Linked DNA regions of Homo sapiens. The gene in region 4 interacts genetically with the main gene of each other region. Each region holds a gene or a part of one and is shown on either strand. Other genes may lie near its edges. The genes, in order: ARMH3, SGMS1, TM9SF2 and PTAR1.

The links.
Region 1: changes in PTAR1 (region 4) and ARMH3 are lethal when combined (synthetic lethality), as found in Homo sapiens cells (one study listed by BioGRID).
Region 2: changes in PTAR1 (region 4) and SGMS1 are lethal when combined (synthetic lethality), as found in Homo sapiens cells (one study listed by BioGRID).
Region 3: changes in PTAR1 (region 4) and TM9SF2 are lethal when combined (synthetic lethality), as found in Homo sapiens cells (one study listed by BioGRID).

What each region holds. Positions count from the first base shown.
Region 1 is NC_000010.11:101,990,146-101,997,183, reverse strand, and holds part of ARMH3 (armadillo-like helical domain-containing protein 3), read left to right. Parts: intron 1-1,828; coding exon 1,829-1,887; intron 1,888-3,580; coding exon 3,581-3,646; intron 3,647-5,145; coding exon 5,146-5,215; intron 5,216-6,572; coding exon 6,573-6,633; intron 6,634-7,038. UniProt on the Homo sapiens protein: Involved in GBF1 recruitment, Golgi maintenance and protein secretion.
Region 2 is NC_000010.11:50,305,947-50,312,984, forward strand, and holds part of SGMS1 (phosphatidylcholine:ceramide cholinephosphotransferase 1), read right to left. Parts: intron 5,470-7,038; coding exon 5,316-5,469; intron 2,203-5,315; coding exon 2,036-2,202; intron 1,376-2,035; coding exon 1,196-1,375; 3' UTR 1-1,195. UniProt on the Homo sapiens protein: Major sphingomyelin synthase at the Golgi apparatus.
Region 3 is NC_000013.11:99,560,434-99,564,548, reverse strand, and holds the end of TM9SF2 (transmembrane 9 superfamily member 2 precursor), read right to left. Parts: intron 1,859-4,115; coding exon 1,791-1,858; 3' UTR 501-1,790; downstream 1-500. UniProt on the Homo sapiens protein: In the intracellular compartments, may function as a channel or small molecule transporter.
Region 4 is NC_000009.12:69,722,007-69,729,044, forward strand, and holds part of PTAR1 (protein prenyltransferase alpha subunit repeat-containing protein 1), read right to left. Parts: intron 1,625-7,038; coding exon 1,320-1,624; intron 1-1,319.

The DNA.
Region 1 (7,038 bases), on a different chromosome or scaffold from region 4:
AAGCGATTCTCTTGCCTCAGCCTCCTGAGTAGCTGGGATTACAGGTGCATGCCACCACGCCTGGCTGATTTTTGTATCTTTAGTAGAGAAGGGGTTTCACCATGTTGGCCAAGCTTGTCTCCAACTCCTGACCTCAGGTGATCATCCCACCTCAGCCTCCCAAAGTGCTGGGATTAGAGGTGTGAGCCACTGAGCCCAGCCCCTATTCCCTTGGGTTTTCCCCTGCTTTTAAAGCCTTTATTACTTGGGATTTTTCTGACTTTGGTGGTGTCACCTTAAAGAAGCTTCTGCTCAACCTTTATAATAGATACTAGGCAAAAAATTGTAAAAACCATGTATATCTATGCATAGACTTAAAGTTGATTCACCAAAGTCTTAACAGTTATAACATTTGGGTGGTATGATTAAATTTGATTTTCATTGTTTTGTGTGTATATGCTTTTTTAGAGTTTAAAAGACTGTCTATAATGAAATAAGCCTAGTTTTGTATTCATAAACACTTTAATTTTAAAATTAAAAAAAATTTTAAGTGGAGAGATAGCTGCAGGCTTTTCTGTGGGAGTTGCGTATCAGTTTGTGGGAGGATAGTGCCATAGAAACTGGCTAAAGGTGGGTAGAAGAGTTGTGAATCTAGTTTTCTGGAGGCAAGGGCATTACTCTTTGGCTATATCGGGGCTTTGATGAAGCTCCAGGGAGTGTCAGATAGGGATTGTCACCATTACTCTTTTTGCATTGCCTATCTCTGAGGAGATGTGAGTATATTTGTGGATTGTAATCCCCATTATGCCATCTAATTGTCAGGTTTTAATTGATAGATCCCATTTTTGAGAAAGAAGCAGGTCAATGTCAGGGTAAATAGTAATAGCTAACTTCTACAGCACTCTAATCCATTAAGAGGTCTTCTCTCTAGATTGGACTTCATTCTGGGTCCTGTTGAAGCTAATTTGAAAATCATGAGCCATTTGTCTGTTTTGGCTATGCTGGCATGATCCTCTTCTTACTTCCTTTTCACTCCTTCACCCACAGAGTTTCTGGAAAGTAACATAAGCTTGATGGGTTCTCGTACTTGGCAGTAATGGATTAGCTCTTTTTTGTCCTTTTGTGTGTGGGCTTAGAGCCCTGCTACTGAGGTTGTCTTCTTCTTTTTTAATAACTAGAATGTGAGTTGTGAGAGACCAGGGACCTTTGTCTGTTTTATTCAGTGCTATATCTCTAGTGCCTTGCACAGTGCCTGCCACATAGTAGTGCTAAGTAAATATTTGTTGAATGAGTAACTTTGACAGGAAGAAAAATGATCAAGAGTTCACAGCTTTCTAGGGCATAAGTATACAATTGCAAGGAGAAGCGTGGGCTGGACCCTAGTCTCCAGTTAATTTCTTTTTGATTTCATTGCCAGTTTGCTATGAGCAGTCATGAAATCTTTCTAGATTTTGTGGTAGGTGGTGCTTAGAGCTGGCAGATGAGAGGGTGGGTGGAAAAGGAAATGGACCTGACTATTCAAGTTCTATCAGCAAAGGGCTGATGTGAGAGTACTGGCCACTATTTGAGCCATGACAGTAGGAACCATTGTGAGTTAGATGGCTTTCAGGAAGGTGGTTAGCCATTTAACAGACTACCAGGATATTAAAAAAATAAATCTTCTGGGGGAATTCTTTTGCCTAGGAGGGAAGCAAGAATTACTATAGTAGTACCTTGATTTTCATTTATGGATTTTGTGGGAAGAGAAAGTGTGAATGTTTCCTTTTATGATATACGTCCTTGTTCTGTATTGAAACAGATGATGTAAATCTGGATGATTTACAGAGAAGAGTTTCTTTTTTCTTTACAGATGAACACAGGCTTCACAGTGGCAAACTCTGTCTGATTATCCTTACATGTATTGCAGAGGTAGGTCTCACGAGCCTTCTGCTATTAGGCAGTCTTTTACAAAGTGCTATCTTTCCCTGCCTCCCCTCACCCCATTACTGTCTCATGACATTTAGGGTCCTAAAGTTTAGGAGAGAAAATCTTCCCCCTTTGTATTATCTGTCTTCTCCCACTAGAGTGTAGTCTTCGATGAAGCCATGGATAGACAGGGTCTTGTCTGCTTCCACGCTGTTTAGCACTGTGTTTTTAAACTGTGGAGCAGTTTGTTTGTTTGTTTGTTTTGAGACGGAGTATCGCTCTGTTGCCCAGGCTGGAGTGCAGTGGCATGATCTTGGCTCACTGCAACCTCCACCTCCCAGGTTCAAGCGATCCTCGTGCCTCGGCCCCTCTAGTAGCTGGGATTACAGGCAGTGCCACCTTGCCCGGCTAATTTTTGTAATTTTAGTAGAGATGGGGTTTTGCCATGTTGGCCAGGCTGGTGTCAAACTCCTGACCTCAGGTGATCCACCCACCTCGGCCTCCCAAAGTGCTGGGATTACAGGCGTGAGCCACCATGCTCGGCAGTGGAGCAGTTTAAAAAATAAAAAAGGAGCTCAGGTTTCCTGTGATGGGGTGAAGGGGTGGATAGTAAAGCCAGAGAGGGGAATTGGAAACTCAGTAATTGCAGTTTGCCGAGGAACAAGAGCTGAGGGGAAAAAAGAAGAGATGCTTTGGCTTTTTAAGAAGCCACTTTTGGTTGGACTAATTAGGTTCAAACTCACCATGTATCTTGGTGACACACAGGCATGGCAGAACTTGAGTGAGTTTAGAGCTAAATTTATAGCTTCAACCTCCCCCTTTACTATTCCCCACTCTGCTCTTTTCTCTCTTAAGAAAAATGGTGAAGATATTCCACATGAAGTAGAGATCTCTCTCAGTCTCTCTCTCTTCATGTTCTCTGTGGAAAGATGACCTCCTTTTCACAAGATTAGGGGTGGCTGGTTATGGAAGAGCTGCTTATTAGCAGTGGGCCTGGTATAATTGCTTTTCAAAAATCTTTCTAAGAAAATCTTTAAAGGAGTTGTTTTTCACAAATTGTAACAGTTCCTTGTAATTGGAGTCTGTAGGCTTGTCAGATCTTCAGAAAAGGTATTGGGAAAGGGCCAAGGGATGTTTATTACTAATCCATGGTAAGAGGTTTTTGATTTTCTGTCAGTCTTCAGGAAAGCCCGGAATAGACAGGGTCTTGCCTGCTTCCACGCTGCCTGTGTAGCAGTTTGCTTCTGTTGGGCTGAACCCATTCCCAGCAGAGCACAGATTTTTCTTCTTGCTCCTAAACCCTCATGTGGAGCCTGCACATGAATCCTGCAGCCTCTGTGAAAACCTTAAACTATCACAAACAGAGCCAGCTCCTTGGGCAGATGGGACGGAAGAGGGAATAGGAAAACAGATTACTCTCATTCCTCTCAGCATCTGCCTTAAGTCCCTGCGTCTTAATTTTTATTGTTTTTGCTTGGAAATTTTTGACCAGTTAGAGATACACTGGGAAATTACACTAAAGAAAAATCTCATGGCTTAAGTAGGGTTTGACATAAGGCTCTAGGCTCATCCTATTAGCTGTCCAGCTGATCCTTGAAAGTAGTTCTCAAAGTCCAAGGATTTGTACGAAGTGTGATAGATTACAGTTTCTTAAATATAGCTCTCGCTTCTTACTTTTTCTCTATATTTTTATTAGGATCAATATGCCAATGCATTTTTGCATGATGACAACATGAATTTTCGAGTAAACTTACATAGAATGGTAGGTGTTTCTTTTGCTTCTTGTTTTTTCTTAGAGGAAATTTTTTGTATGTCGGCAGGGTTGGGATGAAATTGATCTTACTAGAACAAATGTGGGTGGAAAGTTGTGCCAAAGGGCTTTGCATGACGGCTGTTCAACAGACCCATGCTTGTTGTTGGGATTTTTGTGTGTCATGGAGCTGTTTCTTAATCAAGAGTTTTGGAAGATTCACAAGCGTGGCAATGATACTGGATTTCTTTTTTTTTTTTTTTCTTTTTTTGAGGGAGAGTCTCTCTCTCTCTCTCTCCCCCCCAGGCTGGAGTGCAATGGTGTGATCTCTGCTCACTGCAACCTCTGCCTCTTGGGCTCAAGCAGTTCTTCTGCCTCAGCCTCCTGAGTAGCTGGGATTACAGGTGGCTGCCACCACGCTCGGCTAATTTTTGTATTTTCGTTACAGATGGGGTTTCACCACGTTGGCCAGGCTGGTCTCCAGCTCCTGACCTCAGATGATCTGCCCGCCTTGGCCTGCCAAAGTGCTGAGATTACAGGTGTGAGCCACCGCGCCTGGCCTGATACTGGATTTCAATAATATAGGTTTCAGCAAGGAAATGGTTCTAAGCCTTTTGTTTTCAAAATGTAGTATAATTTTTGAGTGGCTAAGACTAGCTGCTGCTCAGATTTGTTCATCTGAGAAGTGGGCAAATAGAATATGGAGGATCAGGGAATTTCTTAAAGCTTGGAGGTATGTTAAAAAATATCACATTGAGGGCCGGGCTTGGTGGCTCATACCTGTAATCCCAACACTTTGGGAGGCCAAGGCGGGATCACAAGGTCAGGAGATTGAGACCACCCTGGCTAACAGGATGAAACCCCGTTTCTACTAAAAGTACAAAAAATTAGCCGGGTGTGGTGGCAGGCACCTGTAGTCCCAGCTACTCAAGAGGCTGAGTCAGGAGAATGGCGCGAATCCAGGAGACAGAGCTTGCAGTGAGCCGAGATCGTGCCACTTCACTCCAGCCTGGGCAACAGAGCGAGACTCCGTCTCAAAAAAAAAAAAAAAATTACATTGAGGTTTAGATGTAAAACTTTCTTTATTTTTTTGCAACTACTACTGTTGCTGCTTCTATAGGTGGCACCATCACTTCCTCTTTTTTTTATTATTATTATTTATCGTCAAAGAAAAACACCAGTGTACCTCTTTTGTCGTTAGTAATGCCACTTATATAACTAAAAGCAAAGTAAAACCAACAGTTTTCCCATTGTAGTATTCTCTAGTGCCCTTTGAGGTTGTGAATTGTAATTTTGTAACAGGCGTGCATTGATAACTGAAGCATTCACAAGTCCTCCCTTCCCCGCCTCATCCCATGCTACCTCATTCCTCTCCCACCATGTGAAAAAGAGAAAGAAAAGGAAGTATCCCTGTAATAGTGATTTTATTTGCACAAGGAACATGATGATGGGCCATTGGATGTCAGTGCCGGTGTCTACTAATTTCCTTTCTTCATTTTTTTGGTGTGAAGCCTATGAGACACAGGAAGAAGGCAGCAGACAAGAATCTTCCCTGCCGTCCTTTAGTATGTGCAGTACTGGGTGAGTGAGTATCATCAACATTGACATTGTTCTGTGACAGCGATAGGCTTTCATGATGAAGATGAAGAGTAGAACCTGTTTGATGTGCTTCTTCCGCAAATAAATTATTAGTTGTGTTTTTTCCCTGGCCTAAGAATCATGTTTATTGTTGTGTTTGGTAAAGCAACCCCAGTTATAGAGTGGTCAATAAAAGGGTCCTGTTGTTCAAAGAAAAAAGTCATTCCAGTGAGACAAATGGCTGTGTCTAAACTTGATACATGATTTACAAGATACATGATCAAGATTTCAGGCTGGGCGCAGTGGCTCACACCTGTAATCACAGCACTTTGGGAGGCTGAGGTGGGCGGATCACTTGAGGTCAGGAGTTTGAGATCAGCTTGGCCAACATGGTGAAAACCTGTCTGTACTGAAAATACAAAAATTAGCTGGTCGTGTTGGCGTGCGCCTGTAATCCCAGCTACTCAGGAGGCCGAGGCAGGAGAATCGCTTGAACCCAGGAGGCAGAGGTTGCAGTGAGCCAAGATCACGGCATTGCACTCCAGCTGGGGCGAGACTGCATCTCAAAAAAAAAAAAGATTTCAAATTCTTCCCATCCTTTCTTGGTTTGAATTGATGTGCTGGCTGGCCAGGAGGCTTGAAGTTCATGGTTTACATATACAAAACTTCCCCTGAGTATATTAAACTGAGATGAGGCTGACTGAGTTGACAGGTAGGGGGCTGTATCTTGGGTAATTTTGTCTGTCCAGAATTCTGCATTTTCCTCAGGGAATTAGCTGAATTCTTAATCCCATTTCACTTGGATATTCAGCCCCAGTTTCTAAATCTACTTAATTTTAGAAACAGTAATTAAGGCTGTATAATAAGCCTCTCTTGACCCAAAGCCCCACAGCCCATTTCAGTCAATATCTGTCTAACTGAGCATGATAGTAAGATGAGATTGACTGACATAGCTTTAGAGCTGAGTCTCTGGTTACACAAATGTGATCCATAATTTCTTCTCAGAGCTTGCTTCATTGTCTAGTCTCAGAATATGATTTCCCTTTGGCAGTCTGCATTAATGCCATGGGATGAAATATCTATACAATGAAATTTTCCATTTATCTGAATTTATTGGCAGGTCAGGGTATCCTTCTGGAGGTCAGCAAGTGAAATAATTTCTTATTACTTTACAAGTGGCAGGTGGTGAACAGTGTTACACAAAATGCGTTATATAAAATAAGTGTATATGAATAAAGATGTGGTTAGTGGATGCCGTTCAGTGTGAGTGCAAGGTGTACTCAGAAGCTTTTTTTCCAACTCAAAGACAAGAAATGAATTCCATTGTAATTGATCCAGTTTTTCTCTATTCCCCTTTCAGACCTGATGGTAGAGTTTATTGTAACACACATGATGAAGGAGTTTCCTATGGATCTCTATATGTAAGTACAAATATGTACACATTTAATGTGTACAAATCTATTTTAAAGAACTGAATGTTAGAAAATTCATGGTCTGTGTAGGCCGGGCGCCATGGCTCACGCCTGTAATACCAGCACCTTGGGAGGCCGAGGCGGGCGGATCACAAGGTCAGGAGATCGAGACCACGGTGAAACCCCGTCTCTACAAAAAATACAAAAAATTATCTGGGCGCAGTGGTGGGCGCCTGTAGTCTCAGCTACTTGGGAGGCTGAGGCAGGAGTATGGCGTGAACCCAGGAGGCGGAGCTTGCAGTCAGCTGAGATTGTGCCACTGCACTCCAGCCTGGGCGACAGAGCGAAGACTCTGTCTGGGAAAAAAAAAAAAAAAAAAAGAAAGTTCATGGTCTGTGTATACTTTAAGAAAAA
Region 2 (7,038 bases), on a different chromosome or scaffold from region 4:
TACATGCAGTTTCTGCACAAATATCTTTTAAAGAAATAGATCTCTTTTTTGTTGTTCACCAACAAAATTGTCATGAGAGTATGGATAACTAATTCATAGCTTTCAAGTTTTAGGTAAGTGATCATTTTCAAAACTCTCTTTAAGAAAAGATATTCATGGCTGTTTTCATTGAGTAGTTAAAATTGAACTACCAAATCGACGATAAAATAATTTAAGTGGTACATGTCATTGCTACCTGATCACAATATGTGAACAGGCTCTGACTCTAATTAACAACCTCATTATTTAAGTCATTGCAATTTTAAAACCATAAGCAGTCTTCTGATTCAATTTAGCTATAAATGCAAAATTTAGTAGTGTATACATATATTTATATTTTCAAGGAATACTTTATTTTAAATAAAAACATTTAAGATTGCCTACTGACCATACAATCAAGACAAGAAAGGCACTAGAAACATAGACAAATTTCTCTCCCAAGATGCATTTTTAAATTTTAACTCTCTTCTCTCTGACATGTTAAAAATCTTTAAATTTGGTGTTCATAACATCATTTTGAAAAATAAAGTTAGGAAATACTTAGAAAATCACTTTATAACAGAATCTTTTTTTTTGCACTTTTTGAAACACTGCCTTTGCTGATTTTACAAAACCCAAAGTTACCAAACCTTTCTGTGTCTATCATTTTTATTTGAATATCGGTGCAACAGGTAGAAAGATTTCAGAATCAAACCCCATTCAGGTACTTAGAAACCTTCATAGAGACATTTGCTAGAAAATGGCTTACAGCCCAATCTTTGGGGCAAGAGATATGAAAAGTATGTTTTCCCAAGAAAATAATACGCTTTATTTCCAGATGTGACTGGAAAGACCAGAACTTATGATATAAAAGCTTACATTTATGCTGCTGCATCATATACAAAGGAACATGGTGGTTGCGGGTTATGTAAATCCCAAACTTATGAACAGGAAATGTGTACAGTGCATGATAGGTTAAATTTTTCTTTATTGTTGTCCAACGCAGGTCCTTTGGAGAGAAAAAAAGATCACAGTGCTGACCAGGTAACTCAATAGGTTAAGTCAAGGTAACCATTGAAAGATAATAGGATTAGGGAGGTGTTTATTTTATGGCATCTTCTCTCATGGAGTTCTTAGCACTTCGGACAATTTGTCTTTTCCCCACTTTGTACAGCTGTTATGTGTCATTCACCAGCCGGCTGTATTTAACTTGCCTACTGAGGTGGACTACTGGCCAGGGGAAAGGCCAATGGTAAGATCGAGGTACAATTCCTTGGACATTCTTTTCAAAGTACTGAAATGGCCTGTACCACCACACCCTGGCCAGGAGGTTCATCTGGGAAGCTTCCTTTAGCACCTAGGATAACAAAGAAACATAAACACATTTCTTACAATCTTTCACTTTAAGTTCAAATACTTGCCACGCTAAAATTCCCAAAGGACTCCATACCTGCCCTGCGTGTCCACCCACATATCCCAGCTTCTCTCTCTCATCACCATTCTACACTCCACATTCATCTACAAACTGAGCCACATCCCAGTAGAAAAACAACGCCAATTCTGGGAGGGCAAGGAGAACTTATGGCTCACTCATCTCTTGCTTATAAATAAACACCTCAGTTAGCTTTTTAGGTATTCCTCTTCTATGCTAAAAATGTTAACACTTAATTAAATGTTAAATATTAAGCTTGTGATGTGCCCCGGGTAGGGAGAAGAGGATAGGAAAGCAAATCAAGCAAGGAGGGACACAAGCTTAGAAAATATTTTTCATTTTTCAAGGACAATGAAAGTGCGTTCCTTATTCTAGAAGGAAGTAATTCCTCACATCATTATATTAATAAACTTTTTATTCTTAATTCTGAAGAGAATCAATGTCACAAAAAAACAATACAATCTTAGTTGATTACTACTTAAGAAAGAGAAACTTCAGACATCCACAGGTTCTTTGCACCCTGTCCAAGCCAGCAACATCAAGCCAGAAACAACAGAAGCTAAAATCAAAAGCGGGGAAACTCACTTGCTGATTGGCCATAGTGTGATACCACCAGAAGAGTCTCGTGGTGATGTAATATGCCACCACCACGTCCACAGTGTAGTGGTCATGCGCTAAGAGAATACAGAAGATTCCAACTACGCTGAGAAGCCAGCAAATCCAGTGATACCACCAGAGTCGCCGAGGGGAATCTGAAAGGGGGAGAGATTTGCAATAGTCCCATTATTCAAATGACATTAAGGGCACCCAACTATGCCTCTACTAATGCTTCTGAATCCAATTACCTTGAGTCTTCCCTTCTGAAAACAGATCTAGTGAATCTAAGGGCTGTCATTTATCTGTAACCAAGGTTAGAACAGAAACAGCTTTTTATGATGTGATTATACTAGTGATAGTAATTCATATTTGGTTCTTACTTGATTCATACAATCATAAATAGAGTTTAAAAGATGAGGCTAATCAAATAAGGACAGGTTAATGCATCATGTTTCGTTTTTAAAAACTGTCCATTGACATTTAAATTTACCTCTAGCTAATTTGGGGTTGATGCTCTACACAAAAATCAATACCTTTTGGCCCACAGAGCCTAATACAAGGACTAAGCAGTCATAACTGATTTAACTGTACTGCTTTCCAAGTTCTGCAACCATACACTAATCTGAAAGTCTTTGAGATTTTCATTTCTCAAATACAAGCAGAAAAGCATCCAGACGCCTGGGAATTCTAGTTCAAGTGCCTTCTCAAAGGTCGAATGGTGTCAGATAAATACTTGTCTGTATCCCCATTTGGGAAATTACCTGAGAAAAACATCAAAATTTCTATTAGTGCAGGCCTTTCTACCTTGGATTCTCAATTGTGGGATTCAGAGGCTCTGCAGTGTTAGGCAAAATGTTGTTTGAATATGATCTATACTCTCTACACCAGCATGACAGGTTCAGACTTTTATTGGATTCTCAATGGGTCCAAGAACCAGTCATTCATTCAACCAATATTCATTGAGCCTCTTACATGCCAGGGACAGGCAATGCTCTAGATACCTGGATCAATGAATAAAAAAGGCAAGGAGGCTGCCTTTGTGGGAAGATCCCTTCCTAGTGGGGAAGAGAGATAAGAGACAATACTTATAATAAATAATTTACACATTATGTTAGGTGTTAAAGGCTGTGGAAAAATAATAAAGTTGAGCTGGATAAGGGGGATCAGAAGTATAGGGAGTGAAGGGCAGTTTGCAATTTTAAATGGAGCAGTTAGGGTAGGAATATTCTAGTAATATTTGTATTTGATACCTTGACAATACAAAAACAAGAAACAGCTACCATTCAGTCTCTGTGTGACTCTATTAGTATCCATATATGCCATCTAATTTTAATGTTCATAAACTTTTTCCCACCCGATGAAGCAGATGTGAATATCTCATTCTAAACATGAGGAAACTAAGACTTAGGTTAAAGTTTCTTCCCAGGGTCATAGAGCTAGTAAGTGATAGTACCAACGCCTCTGCCTCTCAATATGACACATTGCCTTATTGTCAAGATGGATAAGCCTTGACCCCGTTAAAGAATTTCAGGTATCAGGCAGCAGGAGCCAGGAATCCCTCCCCCAGGGGTGCTGACATCTGGCCTATGTGATTCCTACTGTCCACATCCAGTTACATTCCAGTCCAAAGGCTAGATTATGCCCTGACAATTCTGAACAGATCTTGCTAGAACTCACTATATCTGCTCACGTACTAAGTATAAGCACTGGAACATCTATTCTCCCTTTTCTATCTCAGTGCCCTGAAGTGCATCTCTCTTCCCTTCCTGTATTTCCTTATCTTAGTTTTTCAAGAACAAAACTAGGTTTCGACCCAGTCCACTACCTGTTTTCTCTACCCCATAATCCATCCTGTTATCTGCTGACTCTCTTTATTAATGTCTTAAAGTGTCTGTCACTTCTCTCCATCCCTGATGCCATCAGGCTAGTTTCCTTTGTTACTGCAGCAATCTCCTAACTTTTCTCCCGGTCTCCAGTTTGGTCCCCCATCCAGTCCATCCTGCAAGCTGCTGCAAGAGTGATTTTTCTCTCTTCAAAGACAAATGACACTGCCCCACTGGTTACAACCCCTCAATGGGCACCCGATCTACATCAGCTGAGAGTTCAGACCCTCTTCTTGTGGCTTAAGCACCCCCTGTGATCTGGTTCCCACTTACCTGTCCATTCTTATTATTACCCCTACTCTGAATTCCACCCACTTAAACTTCCAGAGAGTACCACATGCTCCCAAGACACCTCCAGAAGGCAAAGCATCTCCCTCCTCTGTGATACCACAGCAGCCTGGTTCTACTCATTGCTCTTCATGGAAACCCCCCTGTATAATGCTTATCAGACTGTTTCTAACAATGTGATATTGAGCATAATAAAATTTTCCATAAGTAGAGAAATGAATAAATATGTGTAGTTCATTTCTAGCACTGTAATATTAATAGCAATTAAAGTGAATGGACCAAAATCTCATATCTCAAAAACATAATTTGAGGGTAAATAGTGGCAGAAGAATATAAATGGCAGTATGCCATTTATGTATATAAATTTAAAAAACCACAAAACAATAATACACAAGTCCAAAAAAATGGATGGAAATGATATAGGAAAGGAATGAAAAGGTTTTAATCATATATTAACATTTCATTTCCTTTCTAAAAGGGTTATCTGAATTAAATATGACAAAATGCTAATATATATTAAATCTGAGCCATGTATGCGGTATTTATAATATTATTTTGTGATTTCACAATAAAATATTTTAAGTACGTTTCTTAAGGGAAATTTCCCATTTAGTATCTGCCTCAGCCCTGAGCCCATGGCCTTGTTGAGGACAGGGATGAGTCTGACCCATCACTGTACCCTCAGGCATGTAGCATAGTGCCAAGTGCTGAAAAAATAGTTGCTGCATCAACACATAATCTACCATCACCCAATCAGGCTTGATACTGGATTTCTGTGTCCCTTTGAGATTTCCATCTGGCTCCTTACAGCAGCTGTATAACTGGCTCATAACACACCCTGCAGGCTGTGCTTGGAACTGCCTCCACCCCAGTACTACAGATGACACTCCAGGACACCTCGTCCTCAGGAAGACCAGTTCTGTCCTTCCACATATTTCCCTGGGTGCCAGTTGCATGGCGATGAGATGAAGCTGCAAGCCTCCTGAAGCCTCCAGTCTTGCTTCAGCAGATTTTCCAGAAAATGAGCTTTACCAGAGGACCAGAGTTCATGAGAAATGGCAGGTGAGGAAATTACAATGGAAGTCTTTTAGACTTACACTCTTTGATAAATAAGTAGGTAAGTGTTAGCATGACCGTGTGGCCGCTGTACAGATAGTCCCCACACATGTTGTGAGAGCCAGTGATAGACAAGCCACCTCCAGCAATGAGCTTCATTATTCTTCGCAGTTGGGCTTCCCAGTCTCCGAAAAGCTGGCAGAAAAAAAGAAAAGAAGAAAAAGAAGATTCATTACGAGCCCACATGAAAATGTGCGAAGATTACTATTCATATCCAGAATTAAGCTTATATTAAGAAACATAAAATCCCCACCAGGAAGTTTGCCCACTCAGTGTTTACCATTCCAAGAGTAGCCCTTGGGGCGGGGGGGTGGGATGGTCCTACAAATGAATCACGTGGCTTCAGGACTTTTCACAGTTAGCACTTTTTAAAGCACGTGTCAGTAGATGTTTCCCCAGTTTTTCAAAAATTACAATGACAGAGAAACAGTACTTCTATCTGACTGACTGAATAATTGCTTTAGTATAACTATCATTTGGGAAAAATAAAATTTAAATCTGTAGTCTAGGAAAAATTTAAAGATGTATTTTTATCATGGTTGGCCTAGAAGACAACTGTCCTACTACACTTGGCTAAAGCAGCTGAAGGTTTGGGTAGTCAAATATATGAATATTTTTGGTATGTGGATGTTCAGGGATCATGTTGAAACAAGGGATGTGCCTTTAATCTTCTCAAATTATGTAGGTAACATTGAATAATTTTCCAGATTATAAATTAATTTACCTGTCTATGATACAAGTCTGGGCTGGACACCGGAGTAATAAATAGCTTGAACAACTCATTCATTACAACCTTTATTTGCTCGGTCAAGTAAAATGTGTAACTGTCTATATTTTATGCTTGTTAGTACTCTTTTAAATTCTGGTTGTCTAATTTAATTACCATGATCCAATTTAATTAAATTCTGGTTGTCCAATTTAATTACCATGATTTCAATATTTAACTTATAAGAATCTAGCTTTGGGCAACATGTTTTATTATAATTTCCTTTTAAAAAATTATCAAGACTTCTGATTAAGGATGGAAGGATGATACATCAGTGAAGTGTGAGAAATTAAAAAAAAAAAAAAAAAAGAATGGCAGATGGAGCACACCACACAGAGGATATAAATTTCCAAATCCAAAGAGATCACTGAATGCTCAACATAATGGAAGAAAACAGATCTACATATCAAGACTCAGCATCATGGGATTTTAGAATCTGGGGACTAAGAAGAGACTCTAAAGCCTCCAGAGATTAAAAACAAGCTTTACATGAAGGATCATTAGAATAAGACTTTTCAAAAGCCACACTGAAAAACAGAAAGCTTTGAGAAAATGCCTTTAGATTTTGTGGGAAAATGATTTCCCACTTAGAATTCTGTACCCAGCCATATTACTACTAAGCATAAACTGAAGGATAAACTAAGGATAAATTAAAGCCTTTTTCATATATACACGATTTAAAAATATTTACCGCTTATATACTCTTTTCCAGGAATCACAGAGGGTACAGTCTCCAAAACAAGGGAGTAAACATGGAGAAAAGAAGAAATGGGACTCACTACGATGCCAAAAAAGGAGAGATGAAGGACTTCACAGTAGCTCACAAGTTTGGGCTGGAAAGCAAACAGCCAGAATGCTCTGGAGGGATGTCATCATGGAGATGAGCCCAACAGAATACCCAATGCCTCTGGCTGTATTGAGAGGAGTTTCATAACTTG
Region 3 (4,115 bases), on a different chromosome or scaffold from region 4:
AAGGGTTCTGGAACCAATCTCCCATAAATACTAAGGGACAACTCTACCCATAAAAAATAAATACAAGAGATACATAAAACTGAAAGAAACTCTTCTATCTTAAATATTCCATGTTAAAAATGAACAGAGCTCCTCCTTTACTCTTCAAAACCAACAGGTCCGTTTTTTTAAAAAAGGACAGTGACATAAAATTATTCAGTAAGGCTGGGCGCAGTGGCTCACACCTGTAATCCCAGCACTTTGGGAGGCCGAGGCGGGCAGATCACCTGAGGTCAGGAGTTTGAAACCAGTGTGACCAACATGGAGAAATGCCGTCTCTACTAAAAATACAAAATTAGCCGGGCGTGGTGGCACATGCCTGTAATCCCAGCTACTCAGGAGGCTGAGGCAGGAGAATTGCTTGAACCTGGGAGGCGGAGGTTGTGGTGAGCCGAGATCTCGCCATTGCACTCCAGCCTGGGCAACAAGAAGGAAACTCTGTCTCAAAAAAAAAAAAAAATTATTCAGTAAGAACCCAGCAATATCATATAAGTGACAGCTAGTAATTTTAGTTGTAAGTTTAATGACAGTATCTGATTTGCTCTCCTAAGCAGCAAGCAGAGAGACCCTAAAATACAAATGAATATGCTCACAGATACAAGCAGACCGATACTTCAGAATCACCCCCCATTCCTATATTCTACATAAATGGATTTCAATTAGTCAGATGAATGTGAAAGACAGTGCATTTCTTAACTCTTAGAAGTAAAACTGTTTGTGAAATCTAAATTAAAACAATGAAATCATAAAGATGAAGACTTGCTAGTGATTGCTAATGTCCAGGTAATAAAACCTGACTTAAAACACTGTATTTTGAAAAACAAGTCAAAAATAGAAACTCCTTAATGACAATGTAGTAAGGCTCCACCTTAAGTACTTGCAGATAATTCATCTGTCTAGATATGCATGACTTCAACCTCCTCTACTGCCTCACAGTGAACATTTTAGACAATGCCTTACACAGTGAAATTCCATTCAGATCAAAACTCAGAAAGTGTTACATTAACAAAATCCAGTAAAATCTGATAAAATAGTATAAATCATTTCAAAACACCTTGGTAAATAGATCTGTATTTACAGAACCTCCTTGAATATATAATAGGTAATGATGCAATGAAGACATTTTTATAATATTTATTAAGATAACAAATTTATAAATTGAAAGACTCAGAGGCACATAGTTTAAAAGGCCAATACCATGGGAATAATGAAGTCAACACAGAAAAGTAAGAAGATATGAACAGTTACAACCAATAGAAGATTTTCTTTAAAAGCCACATTCCCCTGGTGAACACATCATAGGAATCATCCTTCAAAATTACCATGATAAAAAGTTATTTCCTTCAAAGAAAAATAATTCTTTCTGCCTACCGAGCCTAGAAAATCCTATTTACAATGCAGTGTCCTGCCTTTCATCAGTATTATTTAATATGGCCTCCTCTATTCTGCCATTAGAAGTATGGAAAATTTTATAGCTACTGTATTTACAAATGCACATAATATTTAAATTTGCTCTTCATTGAGAACAACCAAATATATACTTAATCAAATCACAATACAAATGCTTTATAGTGTTGAAGACACATCTTATGGGGGAAAGGTGTATGGGAAGAGGTTTATTTAGAATTACGGTGTTTCTGAAGGATTACTAGGCCAATAATTCTGATAAAACTCAAGGCAGTCACAAAAACAGGTCTTTGTTGATGAAGAGTTTAATTTATTTCTGTTTTAACTGGACACACTGGACTTCTTCAGTCAACCTTCACCACACTGTATATTTTGGTAACAAACCAAAAGCATGCAAAGAAGCCAATTGTTCCTATAAGAGAAAAAATAAAAATAAACCCCTTTTCAAAGGAAGTTTCATACTTTACACAAAAATACAGACTTACAATGACTGGTTCCTTAAAAAAGTCGCAAAACTATAAACTATTACCCACCGGGAATATACTACAGATCTATGAGCACGTCTGAAAAATATACGACCACCTCAAATCAAGTTTCTTACAAAAATTGGTAGAACTTTTTTCTACTATAAGATTACCTAAGCTTTCTACAATACACATTATTTTCCTTACTACATAGAAAAGACTGAAGGATGTCAACTGTCCTTTCCTATTTAAGAATATTTTACAACAAAATGGAAAACGCTACTAGAATTTTTTAAGGTATGAGATGAATACATTAAAACAGGTTCAAATAATGATTAAATGGGGATATTTTCTAAGTACAGTTATTGGAAGTTATCAGTCTTCAAAGAATTATAATAAAATAACTCAGTAAGTTTTTACAAAATGTTAAAAGTGACATGATTAGATAGTAACAAAAATGCATCCTAGCTGAAAATGAGGGACAGCATGGTAGCAGAGAACAGAGCAGCTCTGTCACAAACTGTGTGTGTCATCCTTGGGCAAGTCCACTGACATCTCCAAGCCCATTTATCATATTAACTAGGGAGAAATTTATCTGTCCTCATTGCCTCCATAGACTATTATGTAGAGTAAATGAGATAATTCATGAAAACAATGTATGGCTTGATTTTCAGGTATCAGTCTAGATTCCAAAGAATTTGAATGCTAGATGGGGACACTCTTTCAATGAGACAAAAATGAGGTTCAAAGGGGTTAAGTGACTGTCTCATGGTCACATGGATGGTACTTGTGGCCAGAAATCAAATGCGTTTTTTCTGACTTCAAGCATAGTACTCCTTGCACATGCACACATAAGGGACTATAAATAATCCTTGTATAAATTTTACATTTAAAGTCCCAATAGTTTTCACCATTGTTTTAAATGCAGTACTCTGAGAAAATATTAAAGGAGATTTTCTAAATCAAGAGACTATACATGGGACATTACCGTGGGAAATTACAAACATCATTATATCCATCCTTACATTGTACATGTATTGAGGCCCTACTATATGCAAAGCACAATGTGTGTTTTGGAGGACATACAAATATACCTTTTGCATAGTCAAAAGGATAATTATTCAGGCTAGGGCTGGGGTTAATTTCAGAAAAGCAATAATGAAAACTCAGTATATTTATATAACTTTGTACTTACTTGCATAAATTTCAAGATGACAAACAATATTTTAAGATGAGAAGAACATTTAATCACTATCCAGGCAACTCTAAGAAACTTAAGTTTAGTTACTTAATTTTGTTCTTAATATGGAATATATGTACGTACTAAAAGTGGCGTCTTTCCTTTTGTGACAGAATAATTACTTCTGTTTTGTAAAATGGATTGACTTAAATACAATAAAATGGCATTGCTCTGGAGTACTGAAGCAAATACAGACCATACCCTATTTTAGAGAAAGGTAAGGCATTTAAAGGGCTCACTACTCCCTTATCCAGAATGCTTCCACCTGTTCACTAAAGGAAAAATACAATTGAAGAAAGTGAAATACACTATAAGTTACTGGTTTAACTGGTTGGTTCCATTTGATATGACTCCATAATTCAGATTACAAAATTCAACTCTGAATGAATGAAAATATAACACTTTAAAAAACAAAATCAGCTGGGCGCAGTGGCTCACGCCCAATCCGAGCACTTCGGGAGGCCAAGGCGGGCAGATCGTCTGAGGTCAGGGGTTCGAGACCATCCTGGCTAACATGGTGAAACCCCATCTCTACTAAAAATAAAAAAAATTAGCCGGGCGCAGTGGCGGGCGCCTGTAGTCCCAGCTACTCGGGAGGCTGAGGCAGGAGAATGGCGTGAACCTGGGAGGCAGAGTTTGCAGTGAGCTGAGATCGCGCCACTGCACTCCAGCCTGGGCAAAAGAGTGAGACTCCGTCTCAAAAAAATAAAAATAAAATAAATAAAAATAAATAAAATTTAGGTGATGGTTAAGCTATCATTTTCTGTATCATATGTCTGGAAAAACAACAGATATTCACAATGATCGTTATTTTTTGTGTGTAGGCTAGGAATAAATTATTCTGTATATGCATTTATGGACACACAGGGCACAAAAACAGTCATTCCTTGTTTCACTGGCTACTGCTGTTTTATAGATGATTTATTAAAATTTACAGCTCTGGACCTAAATTTATCACGTAGCAC
Region 4 (7,038 bases):
TCCCTCTTGAAAACATGAAATAAGTGTCTTGGTTTTAAGAGAAAAAGAATGTTCTCTACTAATGAAGGTGCCAAAGAGGGGAGATAATCTTTTATGTTCTGAATATATTTAGTAAGGAAAAGCAGCTGACCAGGTCTCCTCAAATAACCTGCAAGACAGACTAGACTGGAGAAAGAAAGAAAATCTCAATAACTTTAGAAATAGGCAATTTTAAACAATGCCTACCTCCTTCCTGCCTAGCACAGGCAAGTCTTTCATTTACAAATACAATGCTATGGCCTAAAGTAGAATCTGTATTTATGAAGATGAAGATGCCTCCAAATAAAGGAAGATCCAAAAGAAATGAAGCTGGGAAGGGGTCACATATGTGACTTCAGTCCAACATACTGTCAAATGTACTCACAACTGAAGTTGATAGGTTGCTAACCCTTTTTCACTCTTTGCTACCAGACTTTCCCCTCTCTCAAAGAGAAATTCTCTTACACTTTAAACAAAAAGTGTCAAGAGATTATACTTCAGGTAAGTTAATTTGCAGACCATCAGGGTTGGAAAAATGATAAAGCATACCTTATTCTTGGGGTCTAATCAAATCTCAATCCTGACTGTGCATCAATGTGTTGAGCTTTTTCTAGGGGGGAAAAAAAAAAAAGGGCCAGGCATGGTGGCTCACACCTGTAATCCCAGCACTTTGGGAGGCCAAGGCAGGCAGATCACCTGAGGTCAGGAGTTCGAGACCAGCCTGGCCAACATGGTGAAATTCCGTCTCTACTAAAAACACAAAAATTAGCCCGGTGTGGTGGTGGGTGCCTATAATCCCACCTACTTGGAAGGCTGAGGCAGGAGAATTGCTTGAACCTTGGAGGCCGAGATTGCAGTGAGCCGAGATCGCGCTATTGCACTCCAGCCTGGGCAAGAAGAGCAAAACTCTATCTCAAAAAAAAAAAAAAAAAAAGAGAGATGGCAGCAATCCATCCTAGATATGCTAAATATTAGTATCTCCAAGGAAGGAGTCAAAAAAACTTCTGATTCTGTTTTATTTTGGAACTAACACAGGTTATTCTGTTGCACAGTCAAGGTTGAATATCACCATCCTAAGCTGCAGGCAGAGATCTACATGAGGAATCTCTTATTAATGATGATGATGATGATGATGACGATGATATGGTAACACAAAACCTCTTGTATTCACTCAGGCAAAGCTCCACAATCAGATGACCATGTTTACCCAAGCAGGCAGGAATCAGGTGTAACTAACACTTTCTGCAGCTCTCATGAAGACATGCAGTTTTGTGTAGGAAATAGATTTTCCCTTTTCTTACCTATGACACCAAAGGGTTTCATGTCCTGGGTAGGAATCAATAAGATCAGTGCTGAATTCAACTTCTTCTTCTAGAAGATGGGGAAGATTAATCCTTGGTTCTTCTGTTGAAACTGCTGCTTCTTCATCTTTTGGAGGAACTAGGGCTGGCTCACTTCTCAAAGGATTTTGCTCCATCACAGAACTGTCTATCACAGTTTGGCTAATCAAAGACTTAAGCAAAAACTGGCGGTAGTGAAATCCACTGTGGTCTGAAACGTGCATAGATGCCCAATGTTTAGTAGAAGATAGTTCATCAAGAAGAATCTTTTAAGAAGAAAAAAGGGAAGTAAGAAGAAGAGTTCCCAAAGGTTCTTCTTTCTCCATTATTGCCTCTGATTTCTCTTTGATTTGTTCCTTTTTTGACAAGACCATTCTTACCAATATTTTGTACACAATGTCTAGCACAGTGCTCTCACTTAGTGGAAGCTTAATACATGCGAATTTTCTCTTTCCCATATAAAAGTGATAGATTTTTTTTTAAGACTAAAGAATTTAAGGACTCATTTGTCATCCTTTCCCTAGACCTTGACTACTCACATTCTGATTGGTACACACAGAGAAGGAAAATAAAATTCTAAAATAATGATGAGCATTAGGGTATTCATTTACAAGTAATGCTGACGTAAAAGCAAAAATATAAACTCAGATTACTTTGATATAAACTTTATTTTACATTTAATAAATGTGTATAATATGTAACTTATTATCTCTACAATAGGCTCAGTGAAATTATTTGTTCTTCAATATAAATGTCATGAGGGCAGAGACCGTGTCTGTCTTGCTCACTACTTAATTATAAGGGATTAGTAGAAAAACATGATGCACTAATAATAAGATTTTTTCAAGAGCTCGTGACTTTAACTGTCTCAAACTTACTTAACAGTAATAATAAATGGGTTTTAAAATAACTGAAAATTCAGCAGCAAATTGTTTAAATCTTTGTGATACCAATATCTTGCAAACTAAAGAATTTCAAATGAAATGATTTTTTAAAAAGCAGCACCTATGCAAAAATAATTTATTTGAGAGTGTCTTGGACAGGTCGCAAACATAAATCAGTGAAAGGTATATCAAGTGCCTACCACGTTCCGTCAGAGGATTTTCAGACCAGCTAAGGAAAAAAGACATACATTTGTGAACAGTTAACAATACAGACAGCATAATGCTGAATGACACCTTTACCTGTTTGTCAAAGGTCCCAGGCAAATGCCTTCTCCTGTACCATGATCTTTTTTCCATTTCTTACACCATTTTTCTTCCGCGGGAATCTTTCCTTTTGCTGAACCCCCATAGTACTTATGTATTCCATCACATTTATTAAAGAATTTCAGTGCATCTCTTCATTCTCATTAAACTCAGTGAGTGAGGGCTTTAAGATATTTATTCATTCCTATCTGATACTTCAATCCCCCTATACCTACTGACATCAAAGTGGATACATAAATATTTTATGAAATGAATGAACAATTTAATAAATAAGGCAAATAGTAAGATTACTTCCAGCCAAGATAGTCAAGTTGTATCAGTGATATGTTTTAAACATCTCCTTTAAGTTCCAATGAGTTTATTCATAGCCACCTAAATTTATTCCAGAGGCTATAGCTGGCAAGTATCTGAGAAATGGAAAACAGTATCTTTATTTGATTTTAAAAGGTGAAGAAAAATAGCACCAGATAAACTCCTACCTGAAATAAAAATCAATCTTACATTTATTACATTTTTGAAAAATAAACCTGTAGAACATTCTGGCTATAATACAGCAGCTTTTTTATTTTGGCATGGCTTCTTAACATGGATTGAAAAGAGTACTCCACTTATTTAAAATGAACTTATATAATATGAAAACATTTAGATTATTTCTAACTGGATATTTCTATGTATAAAATTGCAGTTTATTATTTAATTTTGAGGCAAAAATAGCACACATATAAAAGATGTTCTGGCTGTGCGTGGTGGCTCATACCTGTAATCCCAGCACTTTGGGAGGCTGGGGCGGACGGATCACCTGAGGTCAGGAGTTGGAGACCAGCCTGGCCAAAATGGTGAGACCCTGTCTCTACTAAAAATACAAAAATTTGCAGGGCGTGGTGGTGCATGCCTGTAGTCCCAGCTACTTGGGAGGCTGAGGCAGGAGAATAACTCGAACCTGGGAGGTATAGGTTGCAGTGAGCCGAGATTGCTCCACTATACTCCAGCCTGGGCGACAAAACAAGACTCCATCTCAAAAAAGAAAAAAAATATATATATATATTTTCAACAAAATCAATTTCTTAAAAAAATTCTTAGGCTTTTAAAGAGAAAATCCACTATATTCTTTTCCCTAAGATATAAAGATGCATATTAGAAACTTTAACTGGAATTTCAGGGTATTCTCTTGTTAGAATAAAAAGATATAAAGATAGAGGCAATGATTTTTTTAAAAAAGACAGCAATTACTTTTAAGTGATCCAGTTAACTTTTAAGTGATCTAAAGATACTATATGAAGATATGGCTTTAATGTACAGTACTGATGGGATAAATGACCTTCGTATGATATACGTTAAATATCTTTCTTTTCCTACTTCCATATGAAAACATGAATAAGTGAATAAATAAACTACAAGAAAACTGCAAATGCAGGGCTATGAAAAAGAGGGATAACGTGCTAAAAATGAAAGACTACTAAAAATACATATGCCATAGGTCCTTTAAACTTTTAAAAATAGTATTTGGGTTTTCTTCTGATTATAAAAGTGATACAAAATGATCAATATAGAAAATTCCAATAATATGGGAAAATATAAAAAAGCAAACAAAAATCATCCATTATTTTGTTGGCCAGAGATCACTACTTGTAACATTCTGGCAGAAAACAAATCTTTCAGGTTTTTTTCTATGTATGCACATGCACAGAGTTTATTTTTAAGAAAAATCTGGGATATTCTTTTGTACCAATTTTATTCTACTTCAATTATAAATACATTCCTATGGCATTAAATATTATTCTATAATTTTTAACTCGTAAAATATTTCACCCTCAAGATTAACAGAATTTAACCATTCCTGTGTTTGTTTCTACTCTTGTATAAGTAACACTCATAAATAAATCTATGTACATATCTAATTATTTAGGAGAAATTTGTAGAAATATACTTGCTGGAACAAAGAAAAAAACTTTATAAAGTTCTTGATATATAAAGTGTCCTGCAGAAAGACTGTATAATTTATACTCCTATTGGAAGTACATGTTAATGCTTATTTCCTAAATTCATCATCAATACTTTAATCTTCACTAATAAGAATCACATTTCATTTTAATTTACATTTCCTTAATTATCATTAAGCCTAAATATCTTTTCTTGTGTGATTACTTTTCCTTTGCTTCTTCATTTATGAACTGCCTATTTTGCCTAATTCTCTACTTTTATGAATTATCTAATTTACTATTTGTGATAGTCATTATTTTTCTTACGAGTTTGTAAGAGGTCTTTACATATTAAAGATATTAAGTCTCTATTTGTCATATGTGTTATAAATATTATTTTCGATATATTACTGCAACTGATTTTTTAAATTCTTTTTTTTTTTTTAAAGATTGGGAGTCAAGTAAAATTCTTTTTTTTCTTTTCTCCCTCAGGTCTATTGAAGAAGTATAAATGACAAATTAAAATTGTGTATATACACACACACACACACACACACACACGTATACACACACATATATATATACGATGTACGACATATTGTTTTTATGTATACACTGTGAAATGATTACCACCATCAAGTGAATTAACTTATCTATCACCTCACATAAGTATTTTATTTTTTGTGGTAAGAACATTTAAGATAACGCTCTTAGAAATCTTTGGGTATACATTATTAACAGTAATTACCATGTTCTACCATTAGACCTCCAGAACTTACTCATCCTAACGGAAACTTTGTACCCTTTAACCAGCAACTCCCTGTTCCCCACCACAACCCCTACTCCTGCAATCACCATTCTACTATTTCCATGAGTTCAACTTGTTTAGAGTCCACCTACAAGTGACACCATGCAATATTTATCCTTCTGCGCTTGGCTTATTTCACTTAGCATAATGTGAGTCTCTTTTCTTCATATAGGTTTTTATTCCATTTAAAGTTCAATTTGGTATTTAAGATTAAAAAAAAAAAACCACCTAACTTTCTATTTTCTAAAAAGTCAATAAATTTTACCAGCATCACAAATTGAACAGGGAATCCTTTCTCTAATTATGTGAAATGCCATATTCATCATTAATGAAATATGTACATATTATGTATTGGAATTTGTTTCTGGACTTTATATTCTGTTCCATTACTGAGTCTATTTTTGAAATAGCATCACAATTTTAATTACTCTGTCTTATTAATAAACATGTAAGTATCTAATGGTAGAGTGTTCTTTATTGTTTTTCCCAACAATTCCTCAGCTATTCTTTAAGCTTTATTCTCTCTAATGTACTTTAGAATCATTTTTGAAGTGAAAAAATAAATCAGTGGTTTTTAATATATTCACAGAATTGTGCAACCATTGCTCTTATCTAATTTCTAATGTTTTCACCACCCCCACAAAACCCCATTCCTATTAGAAGTTACATCCCATTCCCTCCTCCCCAGCCTCTGGCACCCACTAACCTGCTTTGCCTATTCTGAACATGTTATATAAATGAAATCATACAATATGTGGCCTTGAATCTGACTGCTTTCAATCAGCATGTTTTCAAGGTTCATCCACGTTATAGCATGTATCAGTATTTCCTTCCTTTTTTATGGCCAATGTTCTATTGCATGGATACGCCACATTTTGTTTTCCATTCCTCAGGTGAGGTATTATTTTTTGGCTATTATAAATAATATGGCTATTAATGTTCTCATACAAGATTTGGTATGGAATGTGTTTTCACTTCTCTTGGGTATATACCTAGGAGCAGAATTACAGGGTCATATATGGTAATGCATGTTTTTCTCCAAGAATATGATATATATTAACTATAGTTTTATTAATATATAGTGATTCTATGTTTAATTATTTGAGGAAATGCCAAACTGCTTTCCACAGTGGCTGTACCATTTTACATTCTTACCAGCCATAAATAAGAGTTTCAGTTTCTCCACATCCTAACCAACATTTGTTATTGTCCGTATTTTGGTGTGAAGTGGTATCTCACTCCCTGTGGTTTTGCTTTGCATTTCCCTAATAGTAAAGATGGTGAATATCTTTTCATGTCCTTATTGGTGGTGTGGGTAGGTTTTTTGGAGAAATGACTATATGTGCTTTTTTTATGTGAAACTTGTAATTTGCCAGTAGTAATAAACTGCCTGACTGTGAATCTTTCCTGCCACACTACCCTCAAATATAAAAATATTTTAAAATTTACTTAAATGTTTATTTAAGCATGCAGACATCAGAGAGAACATAAAATAGAAAATTAGTGTCATAATTCCACCCTATACTACTTTTAATCAATCTTTATTCTTTAACCTTTTTCTGACTAGAAAACAAATATATGCTTTTATAAAAAATACAAGAAAAAAATCTATAGCATTGTTGTGTGTATGTATTACTATCTGTTCAGCATTTACCATGTGCCAAGCACTGTTTCAAACACTTTAAAGTATTTGCTGTCTCATTCAATGCTAATAAATACATTAAAAATTATATTAGGCTGCTGGG